Regions from separate parts of the Homo sapiens genome. Here region 2 is linked to region 1. The links come from fine-mapping of genetic effects on gene expression. Tissue or cell type: fibroblasts. Region 1 holds a variant in brackets; the other region holds the start of a gene. All regions are shown on one strand. Distances are between the middles of the regions.

Region 1 (8,109 bases):
GAGGGTATTTTGCATATCTGTGGGGTCAGTGGTAATGTCTCCTTTGTCATTTCTGTTTGTGTTTTTTTAGATCTTCTCTCTTTTTTTCTTTATTAATCTAGGTAGTGGTCTATCTCTCTTATTTATTCTTTCAAAAAGCAAACTTCTGAATTTGTTGAACTTTTGTATGGTTTTTCACATCTCAATTTCATTCGATTCAGCTCTGATTTTGGTTATTTCTTGTCTTCTGCTAGCTTTGGGAGTTGGTTGCTGTTCTTTTCCTATTTCTTCTAGGTGTGATATTAGGTTGTTAATTTGAGATATTTCTAACTTTTTGATGTGGGCATTTATTACTATAAACATTCTTCTTCAGTCTGCTTTAGCTGTGTCCCAGAGATTCTGGCATGTGGTGAATTGATTCTCATTAGTTTCAAATAATTTCTTGATTTATGCCTTAATTTCACTGTTTACCCAAGTCATTCTGTAACAGATTGTTTAATTTCCATATAATTGTGTGGTTTTGAGAGATTTTCTTAGTATTAATGTCTTTTCTATCAGACTGTGCTCTGAGAATGTGGTTGGTATATTTTCAGTTTTTTATTTTTTTTAATTTTCTGAGGATTGTTTTCTGGCTAAATGTGTGCTTGATTTTAGAGTATGTGGTATGTGCAGAAGAGAAGAATGTATAGTATGTACAGAAGAGAAGAATGTATATGCTCTTGTTTTGGGGCATCAAGTTCAGTAGATGTCTGTTAGTTCCATTTGGTCAAGTGCTGAGTATAGGTCCTGAATATCTTTGTTAGTTTTTTCCCTCAATGATCTAATACTATCAGTGGAGTGTTTAAGCCTCTCATTATTATTGTTCAGTTATCTAGGTCTCTTCATAGGTCTGTAAGAACTTGCTTTATGAAGCTGGGTGCCCTTCTATTAGGTGCATACATATTTAGGATAGTTAGGTCTTTTCATTGAGTGAGTCCTTCACCATTAGGTAATGCTCTTCTTTGTCTTTTTAAATTGTTGTTGTTGATTTATAGTCTTTTTTGCCTGATACTAGAATAGAAAGCTCTGCTCTTTTCTGTTTTCTGTTTGCTTGGCAGATTTTTCTCCATTTCTTTACTTTGAGCCTATCGGGGTTATTGCATGTGAGATGGGCCTCTTGAAGCGAGCATACAGTTGGGTCTTGCTTCTTTATCCAAGTTGACATTCTGTGCCTTTTATTTGGGCATTTATACTGTTTACATTTAAGGTTAATATTGATATGTGTGGGTTTGATCCTGTCATCGTGTTGTTAGCTGGTTACTATGCAGACTTGATTGTGTAGTTGCTCTATATACTTAAATGTGTTTTTGTGGTGACCAGTAATGGTCTTTGTTTCCATGGTTAGCACTCTTTTAAGGACTTCTTGTAAGGCAGATCTTGTGGTAATGAATTCCTGTACCATTTGCTTGTCTGAAAAGGATCTTATTTCTCCTTTGCTTATGAAACTTAGTTTGGTTAGGTATGACATTCTTTGTTGGATTTTTTTTCTTTAAGAATGCTGAATATAGGCCCCCAAACTCTTCTGCTTATAGGGTTTCTGGTGAAAGGTCCACTGTTAGCTTGATGGTGATCTCTTTTTAGGTGACCAACCCCTTCTCTCTAGATGCTTTTAAGAGTTTTTCTTTCATATCTACCTTATGGAATCTGAGGACTATGTGTCTTGGGGATGGTCATCTCATATAGTGTCTCACAGGGGTTCTCCACATTTCCCAAATTTTAGTGTTGGCCTCTTTAGCAAGGTTGGGGAAATTTTCATGAAAGATATCTTTAAATATGTTTTCTAAGTTGCTTGTTTTTTTCTCTCTCTCTTTTAGGGATGCTAATGAATTGTAGATTTGGTCTCTTTACATTATCCCATATTTCTTGGAGGTTTTGCTCATTCTTTTTTACTCATTTTTATTTATTTTTGTCTGACTGAAATATTTTGGAGAGGTAGTCTTCGAGTTCTGAGACTCTTTCTTTGGCTTCATCATTTCTGCCGTTAGTACTTAGGATTGTATTATGTAATCCTTAAAGTGAGCTTTTCAGCTTTACCAGATCATTTCTTAAAGTGGCCATTTCATCTTTTCGCTCCTGTTTCATTTTATTGTACTTCTTATATCTCTTGGATTGGGTTTTGATTTTCTCTTGAATATGGATGATCTTTGTTCCTATCCATATTTTGAATTCTATGTGTCATTTGAGCCATTTCAGCCTGGTTAAGAACCATTGCTGACAAACTAGCGTGGCTGGTTGAAGGTAGGAAGACCCTCTGGTTTTCTGAGTTGCCACAGTTCTTGCACTGGTTCTTTCTCATGTGTATGGGCTGATGTTTCTTCAGTCTTCAGGTTGCTGTCCTTTGGATGAGGTTTTTTGCTTTTTCATCTTTGATACCCTTGGGAGTTTGATTGTGCTATAAGGTAGGTACAGTCAACTGGCCTCATTTGTGGAAGATTTTATGAGGCCAAGGCTCAGCTCAGCACTCCTGGACTATGTGCTCTAACTCTGGGGGGCTGGCAGTGGGGCCCTAGCTTTGTTCTCTGGCCCCTAAAGGTTAGGAACCTGCTGCACTGGAGGGGCCAAAGTGTTCCCAGTCTGCTGTCCACAACACCCCGATGAGGGCTGCCCACTAAATTACTTCATCAAGGTGTTGGCAGTGGAATTTGTGCTCGCTTGCACATGCCAGCGATTGCAGCAATGCTCAGTGTGTATGTGAATTGCCTGGGATGTGGGACCAGTGGAAGCAGGGCAGTGGCATTCCTGCTGCACCTCCTCATGCAGGTGGTTGTGGTGGTGGTGACATGACAGGGTCAGGGCACTGTGGTAACAGGTTGTCTGGCATTTGTGCCAGTGGTGGTGGCATGGGGTTGGGTGTCAGGGTGTGCTAGCACCAGCAGAGGGAGGTTGTGGTGGGGGAAGACCGTGGCAGCCCTGTGTGTTTCAGCCGGTTCCAGTGCACTGGAACTCTCTGACAGTCAGGTGCAGTCTGCCAGCAAAGGAGCTATGGTAAAGTTTTCCAGGAAGCACCCTGTTTGGGCATCTGAGGCTGCACTGCAAGTGGGTGCAACCAGTCTGGAGCCCTAGGAGAGGCCAGAAGACAGGGTAGTGCTCAGATCAGACTAGCCCCATCTCACAAGGAAGACCACCCTGCTGTGTCCAGGTATGACAGTCACCCCTAGGCTAATGTCTCCTAGAGGAGCGTAGGTGTCCCTGGCTGTGCTCCATTGCAGCCACTCCCATGCCAAACTCTCTGAGCTGTGCACTGGCTGGAGTCCTGCTCCTGCCACCTCTCCTGGCAGCTCTCCCTGCCAGGGTAAGTGTTTGTGGAGGTCATGGGGTCTCCTGCTGATAGGATTCTGGAGATCCAAGGTGAGAGCAGGCCATACCTTGGCTGTTCATCTCACTCCTTCCCCAGGAGACGCTGGAGCCCAGGAATGAGTCCCTTTGCTCAGCAGCCCTGTGCAGGGTTCCTAGCATCCTTTCCCTCCAGCCTGGCCTCTATGTCTTCCTTCCATCCACTCATTGCCTTCTCTCCAAAGATCTGCTCAGAGAGTATTTCATTCTTCCCTATGTCCCTGTCTCTTGATGGGAGATGTTCCTCCTGGCTGTGCTTAGCCGGCCGTCTTGGCTCCCCAGCCGCATTTTTATAGGATAATTAATTAGAAGGGCAGTATAGTTTTAGACTGAGACCAGTCTAATTTATAACATCTCTGTTCACATACTTTCTGGCTGTGTATATCCTTGGGCAAGTGGCTTTATATCATTAAGTTTTATATTCTTCTCCAATTGTAAAAGCAGGTGAGTTGTCACTTAATGGGGCTAATGTAGAAATTAAATAAGATAAATGTCAGTTGCAAACCAAGGGTCTGAAACATACTAGATGTTAAACTGATGGTTTACTAGTATTGGTGATGGTATCTAGTTTTCAAGCACAATAGAGTGGAATTTTGGTTTATAAACCAAAATTCTGTTAAGAAACAGTATTTTTAAGGCTATTCAGCAGAGACAATTTTTACCAATTTCATCTATATTTTAAATTTAAATGTTTCTTTTATTTTGAAATAATTTTTCGCAAGGCTTTGCTTTTCAAATGTAAATGTTTAATCTTTTAAACACATTGGCTCTCTGGGCACCTAAAACTCTCTTCACTATCGACACTTTAGGATTTACTGGCCATGCTGTTGCTTCTGTTTTAATTTGCAATAGAGCACTTGTATAAATGTACTTTGAAATGTTTGGAAAGTTGTGTATGGACTGGAAAAATGCATGCGAGATGTTCCTTTGCTTTGTATATTGTGAAAGGGAGGATTTGTACATGCTTTGTTGTTGTTGTTACATACGCTAGTTTACTGTTTTGAACATAATTTGTTTACTACTTTGAATTCCCTATTTGATG[G/A]AAGTGAAATGTGATCTTGCTGGACAGTAGAAGGAAAGACTGCCTGTATTTCATGCTCATACCTACTAAAGCATCAGACTGTTTCATATTTAAGAGCAGTTTAAAAAGCACGTGAGGGTCTTCTTAATCTTAATTCTAGTGTCTTAAAAAATGTATGTGGAGATTATATGTTTTTGAGACACTATAATTAAGGTCAAGAAGGGAGGTAATTTGCATTCCCCTTGAAAAAGCTTTGATACCAGCTCTGGGGACTGAGGGGCATTGTCAGTGAGAGGGCCCCACACAGAGGCTTCTATGTCTCCAGCCTGCAGCCTGGAGAACTATGAAGACTTCTGTTTAGCCTCACACAGAGGAAGGCAGAATAAACAAACTGAAATGGCCCAAACAAGCTACTGGGTTTTTCCCTAGACTTAGGGTAAGGAAAAGGATCAGGCACTGATTTGACAAAAAAAAAAAAAAAAAAAAAAAAAGTGAGCATACAGAAAAATATTTATAGGACACTCTATGCCATGCTCCTGGTTCACTGCAGATTATCAATCAGTGGAAAGTGATAGAAGCAATGGATCAGCAGAATGGGTATAGAGGTAAGACAGCAGTTGCAGCAGCAGTGGTGCTTGGCTCTGGTAGGGCTGGTGGAGCAGGGTTGCTGTATTAGAAGAGTCAGGACTTGTTCATATGTCTGTCTCTCCCTCTCCCCCAGATCATAGCTGAATACCCAGCCCTGGACTTTGCAGATAATAAGTGTAGCAAATATTTTTTAAAACATTTATCAGCATCATTTAAATTATTACAAAAGTTTATAAATTGAATCCTATATAGTGCATTGTTCCCCTTAACTATTTCTGATTATATATCATCTTGTTATTTTAGATATTGAAGAATTTATCCCTCATGTTTCCTCAATTTTGTGTGTGTATGAGTGAGGAACCACAAAAGTGTTTTCCTAAAAAAATACTTGCTAATATTCTGCTGTGTGTTGTATTTTGGTCCTAATGTTGAAAAACAAATATCCTCAAATGACCTCAAATCTTGCTACCTAGGGAAGGAAATAGTGGCTTTTGGGAAATCAAGAACTTTTGAATATAAAAAAGTACCTAGAAGAATAAAAGGCACATTCCTTTATGTATCTTATTAGGCTTTCTTTTTTTCCTAAGTAGTAAAACAATCATTAGTTTCACTGAGTATTTTGGACAGCATATTAGAAATTTGAAGTACCAAGTTTACTATTCTTTACTGGAGATTGTCCAGCAGAGGAAAGCAAATACCAGTGGATGTGTGGAAGCATTTTCTGATCTTTAACACGTACACCTGCTATACCTAACAGCCTGCTCAGAAGAAGGTTCTATTTCTAGATGGTAAATGAGAGCTTCCCAGTGGACCATTATTTTATCATGAGTGGTAGTGGGAGGAGGGACAGCGTTTGGACATGAGGGAATTATCATGTATGCCATCATATCATTGCTAGGTCATTTATCTCTTGTCTAGCCAAGTTCACGTTAAATTCTACTAGGTTAGCACTTGAGGTCATTTAACAAAACTGCTGTTTATTAAGAATGGGAGACATGTTCTTCTTTGAATCCTGCAAGAGGTGGTTGCTGAAAATAATAGGAACCATATCTTCATATTTTAGGCAAAAGTCACTTTTAAGAAGCTTTGTGATAAATCACCTAGAGAAGCCAGTGAATTATGCCCTAATGGTTGGAATGAGACAAGTTTTCTAATAGTGATGACAATTATTAATTACTAATCACAAGTATGTGTGTGGTGGGAGTGAATCTCAAAGCTATAATAAAAGGAAATTTGTGCCTTTTTGCATAATGAATGAGAAAAGTCTCTTTAAAAGAGCAAAGAAAACTATTAAATTATAAAATTGTTGAATTTCTTGTCACAACCTTTAGAAACTCTATAAACTCATCTAAAACCCCAATTCACTGTAGTGTGAAAAATAGATACATATTCAGAGTGATCATTTATCTTGAATTAAAATTAAGCATCCGAGTCATTACAAACTTATCTCCTGCTTATGGACATGCTGACATAAAAGTATTTAAAACTTCTGAGTAGAAAAGGATATTAATGATGCAAGGATAGGCCAGAAAATGAATACACTTCTTACTAAGGAAATAATGATTGTTATTCAAGCTGCAAAACCTAAACATGGAAAGGAAGGTAAACTGGCGTTTATTAAAAATCTTTCTTTATTTGTTTGCTAACCTCAGTCCTAGTTGTATTCACATTTGTTACTTTGTTTAATCCCCCCAATAATCCTTAAATGTAGATATTACAACAACTTTACAGATGATGAATTAAAGTTTGCTAAACATTGAATTAATTTGTAATCAATCACGTAACTGCTGAATGCTAGAGTCTAAACCCTAGCCTAGGCAAACATGCCTCCAAACCCCCTCCATTTTCCATTATACCAAGCTGTGTGGAACTGAGTACTCCCTGTTCATGTCTGCCATTAGCTATTGAGCATTATGGTAGGCAAAATAATAGACCCCCTGGCCAAAGATGTCCATGCCCTAATTTCTGGAGCCTGTAATAATGAAGTGATGGACCTTGAGGTGGCAATACTATCCTGGATTATGTAGCTGGACCCAATGTAACCACAAAGTCCTAAAGATAGAAGAAAGAGTCAGCAGAGTCACAGTCAGAGGAGTCAGGACAGAAGCAGAGGTTGGAGTGATGTGATTGTTGGCTTTGAAGGAGGAGACCATGAAACAAGTGACTTCTGTAAGCTGGAAAAGACAAGGAAACAAGTTCTTCCTAAAGCCTCCAGAAGGAATACAGCCCTGCTGACACCTTGATTTTAGCCCAGTGAGACGCATTTTGGGCTTTTGACTTCCAGAACTATAAAATAGATTTGTGTTGTTTTAAACCACGAAGTTTGTGGTACTATCACAGTAGCAAGGAAACTAATACAGGCATCTTAACAGTTGCTAGCTGCAGTGAATTTTTCATAATTTTTGTGAATTTTCAGATGTGGCTTTGCTTACTATCATTTCTGTAATCCTGGTCTCATAGTGCCACCTGAAAATGTTGAGAAACGTAATTCAGTCATAGGTTTCAGATTTGAAGAGCAATTAAACTATATATGAGGGTTCTCATATAAGAAGTAATTGGGTTCCTTTATTTCAAAGCAGAATATCAAAAGAGAGTCAGAAGGATTTGACATGTTTGATGTAGAAAACTTTATTATTATTGTTATTGTTTTGGTTGTGGTTATTTTTCACTGCACCTTCCTCAGCACTCTAAGTCCAAAAGAGCCCTTTTTCAAAATTTCATCTTTTTCTTGTTAATAATAGAGATCTCTGTGCCTCTAAATGGTGTTTGGTCAGTGAGTTTTGTAATCTTAAATGGCAGAAATGTCATGACATGTAATTTTGTGAGAAAAGGATACTTACCCCTCCTAGCCTTTACATAAGTGAAATATAGTAAATGCTCTTAAAATAATTGTACATTTTCTTGTGAGAAATAACATTCCTTGTACTTTATGAGAAAAATATGTGTAAAGTTGCACATCATAGAAGATGCAGATTTTAATATCCAGTGTATTTCAGCAGTTTGGTATCAGAAAAGTGCACTGAGCTAGTGTTAAATAACTTTTTATTAGAATGTCCTCTCTATTGTTAAGTTGCCACATTATATGAGGAAACTCACTTCAGTTTTTGTGCCTTGGTTTCGTTGTTGTAAAATGGAGAGAATGGTACCTG
Region 2 (8,109 bases), 270 kb after region 1:
TTTCAAAGTCTTTAAAAATTAACCCATATTTATAACCTATGTCCTAGATAAAGACTCGCTCATTCTGTAATCTTCAGGATTACAGAGGATCACTCACTGAGCCTGTTCTATCAATAAAACGTATGACATGGCGTAGATACAGTTTAAGTCTCTTCAAAAGGTTTCATGGGATGATGGTGAGAGAATTCCTTCCACCTCTCCATTTTCCTTTAAATGTATCACATATAGATTTTTACTGTGTTTTGGAATAATTAGCTTTCAATAACTGACTCCTGTTTAAAATTACCTAAAATCTGAATATGAACTGTGTCTTAAATGATAATGAAGAACTTTAATTTTTATTAATTGAGATGAGTTTTTTTTTTGAGACAGAGTCTCGCTCTGTCACCCAGGCTGGAGTACAGTGGGCAATCTCAAATCACTGCAACCTCCGCCTCCTGGGTTCAAGCAGTTCTCCTGCCTCAGCCTCCTGAGTAGCTGGGATTACAGACGCATGCCATCACGCCTGGCTAATTTTTGTATTTTTAGTACAGAAGGGGCTTCACCATGTTGGTCAGGCTGGTCTCGAACTCCCGCCTCGGCCTCCCAAAGTGCTGGGATTACAAGCATGAGCCACCGCGCCTGGCCGTCCTCATCGTTTTTAAAAAGCACATATTTTTAAGAAATTCATACTGAAGTATTTATGGGTGAAACGACATGATGCCTAGGATTTCCTTACAAATACTTAGGCCAAAAGAAGAGGAGACAAGACAGATGAAGGAAATGTAATAAAAAGTTGTTGTTTACTGCAACTGAAGGAGGGTATATGGATGTTCATTATATTATTATTTTGTGTATGCTTAAAATTTTTCATTAAAAAAATTTTAAATGTTGTCCAAATAATTAATATTTCTATTACACAGTCTAAACAATTTATTTGTTAAGACCATACTCTAAAGATCACTGAAAGACTATGGCTATTGCACAACAAAAATATTTTAATTTTCTTCTAAAAATTATAGTTCAAAGCCTTAAATATTTGTCAATACATGTGTCAAATGCAAAGAATAAAGATTCTGAAAACGCAACTCATTAAAACCATTACTCATCAGGCATTGCTGCTTGATTATTGTTACTGGTAAGATAATCAAGTGAGCAACCAGCACAATTCCTCTGGTCTTTTGTAATATCAGTATTAGAAGCCACCCAACAACGTAATTTACAAAAGTGAACAACACCTACACTCACAGAAAGTTATAACGAAGAAATACCTGAATAAATGAAAGAGTTCTCTAGATGAATTCACTAATGCTGTTTCAGTAACCCACTGAATGCCAAATATTTCCAAGGTATCTTCTTCAAAATTAGTTGGTAAAGGGTCAAGATTCAAAATCAATCTGAAATGAAAATTGTTTCAATCTCATAAAAAGTATACTAAGTACCATAATACGACGGCTCTTTTCTTTACATTATTTGAATCCATATTATACATGACATGTATAAAAAGTCAGAAAATGCCTTGGTACTTTACACATTCAAGATTACAATAGCTAGACTGTATTAAAACGTCAATCTTCTATATTGATAAAATGTACGACTAAAGTGTAATGTAACTTAAGAGGAAAAATCAACAAGAATTCTAAAAAACATATTTCTGCCTGTCTTCACCAGTAGTCTTCAGTTGTAGAATTTCATCCTTTGAGGGGACATTTAATTTTAAAACTGCTAACAGTTATTCTGAGCCATGTCTGGAGAATAGTATCCAACTAATGAAGTTGAGTATTCTATTTAAGATTTCTAACAAGGTACAACTATAAGGTCAACAAAAATAGTTTCCTCACTGAAACTGCCTCAGCAGGTATTACCAAAATATTTCAAGAACAGTTTTACTGTAATATATATGTACCTGCCCAAGGCAAAATAAGTCTATACACTTCTATATGTGCAGGTAGGATTAGAAGGAACAGGGGCAATAAAAAATGTTTGTCTCTCTTAAATATTACTGGAAAGCTCTAGAATATTATCACACTCTTTAGAAGGAAATACTACTGCAAAAGGCTCAGATAGTTAGGAATTCATTTTAAGTAGAAGAAAAATTAGTGCCCAGCTCCCTACAGTAAGGGAACATCAGTTACCAAGGAAGTTTTCCCTAATACCCCAAATACTTTAGATATGCCCTTACCAAGAAGCCAGCAGAACTGATAATCATTTGTACCCTTATGATATACTAAGCTGATTTATAAAACACGACTTGGTGAACACCAAAGTTTAATGGGCTGAAATAACTAACATTCCTAAAAAACTGGTGAATAATCAGATGAGGGAAAATGTCTCTGAGTTTTACCTACCGCTTAAGGGCTCCGCTGCAGAGGTAGGATTCTCCAGAAAAATGTTTTCCTCCTCCTCTGTTGTCAACAGCACAAGAAAAGTAAGGAGGTTTGCACCATTCCGTCCCCAGCTCCAGCTCTAAGCTGTCAGTCAGGAACGTCGATGCAGCAGAACAGTTCTCCATTGTTTACTTCATGTTCTGAAACACTTGGGGTTCGTCGTATCATTAAGGGCTCCAAAGAGAAGGTGTGAAGAGATTCCTGTTGGGGGGGGGGGGGTGGGGCCGAGAGAGTGGGGATTACTTCAGAAAGTTCTCAAGACGTCCGCCAGCAGGAAGGAAAAACAAACGAACAAACCCAGAGGCCAAATTCCCAATTCCCCCTCGCCCTCCGTCCATCAAGGCTGTCAGAACTTAAGACAAAATGCACAACCAACTGGCTGTGGCAGGGACCTCGAAATCCGGCCACTAAGTCGGGCTCTGCAGCCCAGGACAAGGTGAAAAGCAAAGAAATGTCTGCAGGACATAGCGTCCCGGGCTTGCCTAGAACTGCGCCCTCCGCAACGTTTCTAAACCACTCTCCGCCCGTTTCCCAGCAGCAGGGTGGAGAACGCTCCCTCCCCGGCTCGGGGTGGAAATTAGGAAAGCAACCCCTAGGGCCAACCCCGACCCTCCAAGGAGGAGGCGAGACCCACCAGGCCCACGCCTGGCAGCACTCGGGCGGAGAAGGCGGGGTGCCGGTATCCCGCGTACCCGGCTGCAGCAAGGACCCGGGGCGTCGGTTACCCGCGGTGCCTGTCGTACCCGCTCACATTTCCAGCTCCCGAAACCTGCCTCCTGTGACCCAGACCACCAACAGGAATCTTTGGGGTCTAAACCGCAAACAGGCGAAATTCCCGCCACCGCGCGCCCGCGCTCCGGAAAGGCGGGGCCACGGCGCAGCCCTCCCCCGGCTACCAATCGCCTCGCGATATCTGCGCGGAAACAGTCGGAGCCCCACGAATTCTCGCGAGAGTCCGTCAGTCCGGGACGAGGTACTGAGAAACTTTTTTTTTTGTACCTTTAATTGGTGCGTTCGGCTGAAAGGCGGGGCCTGGTAAAAAAAAAAAAACAGAACTGCTGCTGAGGCGGAGGAGAGGACTTAAGGACTATGGGTTTATCCTCTGGCCGGACCAAAGAGAAGATATTTACTCCAGTGAGTGCGAAGTGAGTGCCTCGTTCACACCCACAGTCGCGCCGTCCCCTCTTCCCGCTCTGGGGCCAGCAACTCTTGTTAGAATGCAGATGCCTTTTGTCCATGGACTGTGAGGCAGGCAAGTGCAACAATTAATTTTCTCTGTAACAGATGGAACAAGTAGACAGAAAATTAGTATGGATATGGAAAACTTGGAAAGCACTAACCAACTTGACCTAATTGACGTTTATAGGTGACCAACCCAACAATAGCAGAATACACACTCCTGTCAAGTGCACATGAAACATTCACTAAGCGATACCATATTCCGAGCCATAAAACAAATGTCATCAACTTTAAAAAGATTTAAATCGTACAAAGTGTATAGTCTGATCATAATGGCATTAAACTAGAAATAAAGTAGATACTTGAAATACTCTAAATATTTGGAAATTAAGAATCATACTTCTAACTAACCTGTGAATCAGGAAAAATCACAGGAAAATTAGAAAATACGTTGAATTAAATTAAAATGAAAACACTAAAATTTGTAACAGTACCTGCTTACATTAAAAAGAAGAACTCAATTCAATAAACTTTTGTCTTAAGTAACTAGAAAAAACCCCCAGCATATTGAAACCAAAGCAAGCAAAATGAATGAAATGATAAATAGTAGAAATAAATGGGATGAAATAAATGGAAGGAAATACATGCAAAAGTTGTTTTTCTAAAAGAGCAATATAATTGATAACCCCCCTACCCAAACTGATAAAGAAAATAAACAAATTATCAGTATCAGGAATTAAAAAGGTTTCATCACTATGAAATTTAGTCATTAAAAGGACAAGGATATTAAAAGAACATTATGAACATTTTTATGCCAATAAGCATAGGTGAAATGGACAAATTCCTTAAAAGACGCAAACTGTCAAAAATCAACAAAAGAAGAAAATTTGAGTATCTCTGTATTTATCGTAGTACTCAGAATCTTTGGTTAAGCCTCCCTCCTCTCTCTCTGCACACACACACACACACACACACACACACACACACACACACCACTTCTTACAAGAAAACTTCAGGCCAGGGCAGGCACAGTGGCTTTGGGAGGCTGAAGTAGGTGGATCCCTTGAGACCAGGAGTTCCAGACCAGCCTGGGCAACATGGTGAAACCCTGTCCCTTGTCTCCACAAAAAAAATACAAATATTAGCCAGGCGTGGTGGTGCTCATCTGTAGTCCCAACTACTTAGGGAGGCTGAGGTGAGAGGATCACTTGAGCTGGAGAGTTCGAGGCTGCAGTGAACTGTGAGTGTGCCATTGTACTCCAGCCTGGACAACAGAGCAACACCATTTCTCAAAAGCAACAAAACAAACAAACACTCTCCAGGCCAAATGGCCTTACTATTAAATTCTCCCAAACATTTAAGGAAGGAGTAATACCAATTCTATACTAACTCTTAGAGAAATTAGGAGATTGGATGCTTGTTTTATGAGGCTAGCACCACACTGGTATCGAAACCTGACAAAAGACAATTACAATACAATATCACATGCAAACATAAAAGCAGAAATGTTAGCAAGCAAAATCCAGCAGTACATAAAAAGGATGACATATGATGGCAAGGTGCAGTGGCTCACGCCTGTAATCCCAGCACTTTGGGAGACCAAGGCGGGTGGATCACTTGAGGTCAGGAGTTCAAGACCAGCCTGGCCAACATGGTGAAACCTCGTCTCTACTAAAAATACAAAAATTAGCCGGGTATGGCGCCATGTGCCTGTAGTCCCAGCTACACAGGAGGCTGAGGCAGGAGAATCGCTTGAACCCGGCATGGGGAGGTTGCAGTGAGCCGAGATCGCGCCACTGTACTCCAGAACAAGACTCCGCCTCAGAACAAACAAACAAAAAGGATGACATATGACAAGAAAATTAGATTCATGTTAGGAATGCAAGGTTATTCAAATTTCTACAAGTAATCAGTTCATTATATCAAGTCTATAAAAAGAAAAACTGTCATCTCAATAGACACTGAAAGATCACTTGATAAATTCAACATCTATTCATGATAAAAACTCTCTGCCAACTAAGAATGGAAGAAAACTCCCTACCTTATATGTGATATCTATGACAAACCTGCTATTAATATCATACTTAGTTATAAAAATGTATGTTCTTTTCCTAAGATTGAGAAAAAGGCAATGATGTCCACTTTTTCCACTTCTCTCAACATTTTACTGGAGGTAACTAGTCAATGCAATAAGGAAGATGAAGAAATAAATGTCATATAGATTGAATAAGAAGAAGTAAAACTGTCTTGATTTTCAGATGACATAATTATTCATATAGAAAATCCTAAAAAAATCTCTACAAATATATATAAAAACTATGAGTTCAGCAAGGTGGCGGGGTTCAGTGACACACAAAAATTAATTGTATTTTATAGACATGAAAAGACAATTTGAAAATTAGAGTTTAGAAAACAACACCATTTAATGACATAAACAAGGTTTAAATTTAACAAAATATGCGTCAGATTTTGTTTGCCAAGGATTCCAAAATATTGCTGAAAAAAATTCAAGAATATTCAAGTAAATAGAATGAGATAGCATAATCATAAATTGGAAGACTCAATATTATTAAAAGTTCTTCTGAAGTTTATCTATGGCTTCAAAGGACTGCCAATCAAAATCCTAATCCCAGAGAACTTTCTTTTGTAGAAATTGACAAATGCATTCCAAAACTGATATGGAAATGCAAAGGGCCTAGATTAACCGAAACAATTTTGAGTAAGAATAGTGTTGAAAGAATTCCAGTACCTAATTTCAGGACTTGCCATTAAGTTACAATAATCAAAACAGTATGATTTTGATCTAAGGGTAGACATAGCCAGTGGAAAAGAATAGAGACTCCAGTAACAGGCCCCCATACACGTTTGATCAGCTGCTTTTTGGCAAAGGTAATTCCATGGTGAAAGGATAGTCTTTTCAACAAATAGTGAGAGAACTATTGGATACTGATACACTTAAAAATGAACCTACCTCATATTATAAAATTTAACCCAGTAAGGATCATAGACCTACATGTAAAAGCTAAAACTCTTAAAAACTTTTAGATATTCAGCTTGCTAGTAATCAAGAAAATGCCAGCAAAGAAAAGCAAGAAATAAGGCTAGTCCACAGAAGAAAAATCAAGTGTGTGTGGTATGGTATGATGTCTGTCATGAAATCCAAGAGAAGTATTTTATGAAAGAATGGGTAAGCTAATAAAGGAAAACAGATTAATCATTGGTATTGGCAAGAAATAGGTCATTACTAATGTTGATAAAAGCTGTTTAAGTTGAGTAGTTGGGGAAAAACATCTGATAGGAGTGGGTCATATAGAAAATGGGAGGTGAATCAGCAAATATCAAAACTTTACCCAGGAATTTAATTGAAAATAAAGCATAAAAATAGGACAGAGGGACATATAGGGATCAAGAAATGGTATTTTCAAGATAAAAGATGTTAGAACATGTTTGCGAGGCTATGGCAGTTATTAAATGGAAAGAAAAAAGATGCTGAACAGAAGGGGAATAATTGCAAGAATAAAGGCATTGAAAAGATGAGAGGGGATAGTATTCATTACACAAATGACATATCAACCTCTGATAGGCTCAAGAAAAAATTTTTATCCTAATAGGAAGAGTAAAAAAAAAAAGTAAATCTTAAAAATACAGAATAAGATGGCTGGAGGTGGTGAACTACGTGTTGGAATGTTGAGTTGTTTTTGTTTTATTTCACCTATTTCTCTATGACACATCAACTGGAAGTGAGAAGGAAGAGTAGTTGTTAGAAATTAGAGAAGAGGTGCAATATTGTCATATTGGTGAGTAGAAAAGTATATTTACTAGGCAAAGATAATAAGAATGTCTGGAAGTGTTGAGTTATCATTTGAGATTTGTGACAAAAAATTAGAGTTCAGTCATCATGGTTTTGTCATTTTCTCCAGCACCATTCAGCTACTTGGTAAAAGAGGGCAGGACAGGCCAGGTACGGTGGCTCATTCCTGTAATTCCAGCACTTTGGGAGGCCAAGGCAGGTGAATCACTTGAGGTCAGGAGTTCAAGACCAGTCTGGCCAACATGGTGAAACCCTGTCTCTTCTAAAAATACAAAAATTAGCCAGTTGTGGAGGCACACACCTGTAGTCCCAGCTACTCGGGAGGCTGAGGCAGAAGAATTGCTTGAACCCGGGAGGCAGAGGTTGCAGTGAGCCATTATCGTGCCACTGCACTCCAGACTGGGTGACAGAGCGAGACTCCATCTCAAAAATAAATAAATAAATAGAAAACCAACAACAACAACAACAAAAAACAGGGAGGACATATGATAGAATTTGAATGTTGTATAATAAATGAACCCATTCTAACTTGCTGCTTTTTAAAAAATATACCCACAAACCATCTATTTAATAATGTATTCTTGTGTTTTCAGGTATCAGACTCAAAGTCAAACAATTTAATATGAATGTCATGTTTTGTAGGAGGGAAACTTTTCACAAATTCAACTTAATATGATATATTCCACTGATTGAAAGGTCTCAGTTTCAGAAAGTTTATGATTTTAATTGAAATCTTATTTAAAGTTTAAGACT

Evidence for each region. PIP is the estimated chance that this variant, and not a neighbour inherited with it, causes the effect.
Region 2: MMS22L starts here. The variant in region 1 is fine-mapped to the expression of MMS22L in fibroblasts (GTEx, PIP above 0.99).

What each region holds. Positions count from the first base shown.
Region 1 is chr6:97,005,289-97,013,397 of GRCh38, forward strand. The region is part of intron 3 of KLHL32 (kelch like family member 32); the gene reads left to right. Among named protein-coding and RNA genes, the nearest start is that of KLHL32, 85 kb to the left of the region's middle. The variant G/A (reference allele first, on the strand shown) is at 4,394.
Region 2 is chr6:97,279,987-97,288,095 of GRCh38, forward strand. MMS22L (MMS22 like, DNA repair protein) reads right to left here and starts at 3,230. Exons shown (of 25, transcript NM_001350599.2): 1 at 3,110-3,230; 2 at 2,328-2,567; 3 at 1,251-1,376. The coding sequence starts at 2,491. RefSeq lists enhancers at 2,807-3,066, 3,447-3,506.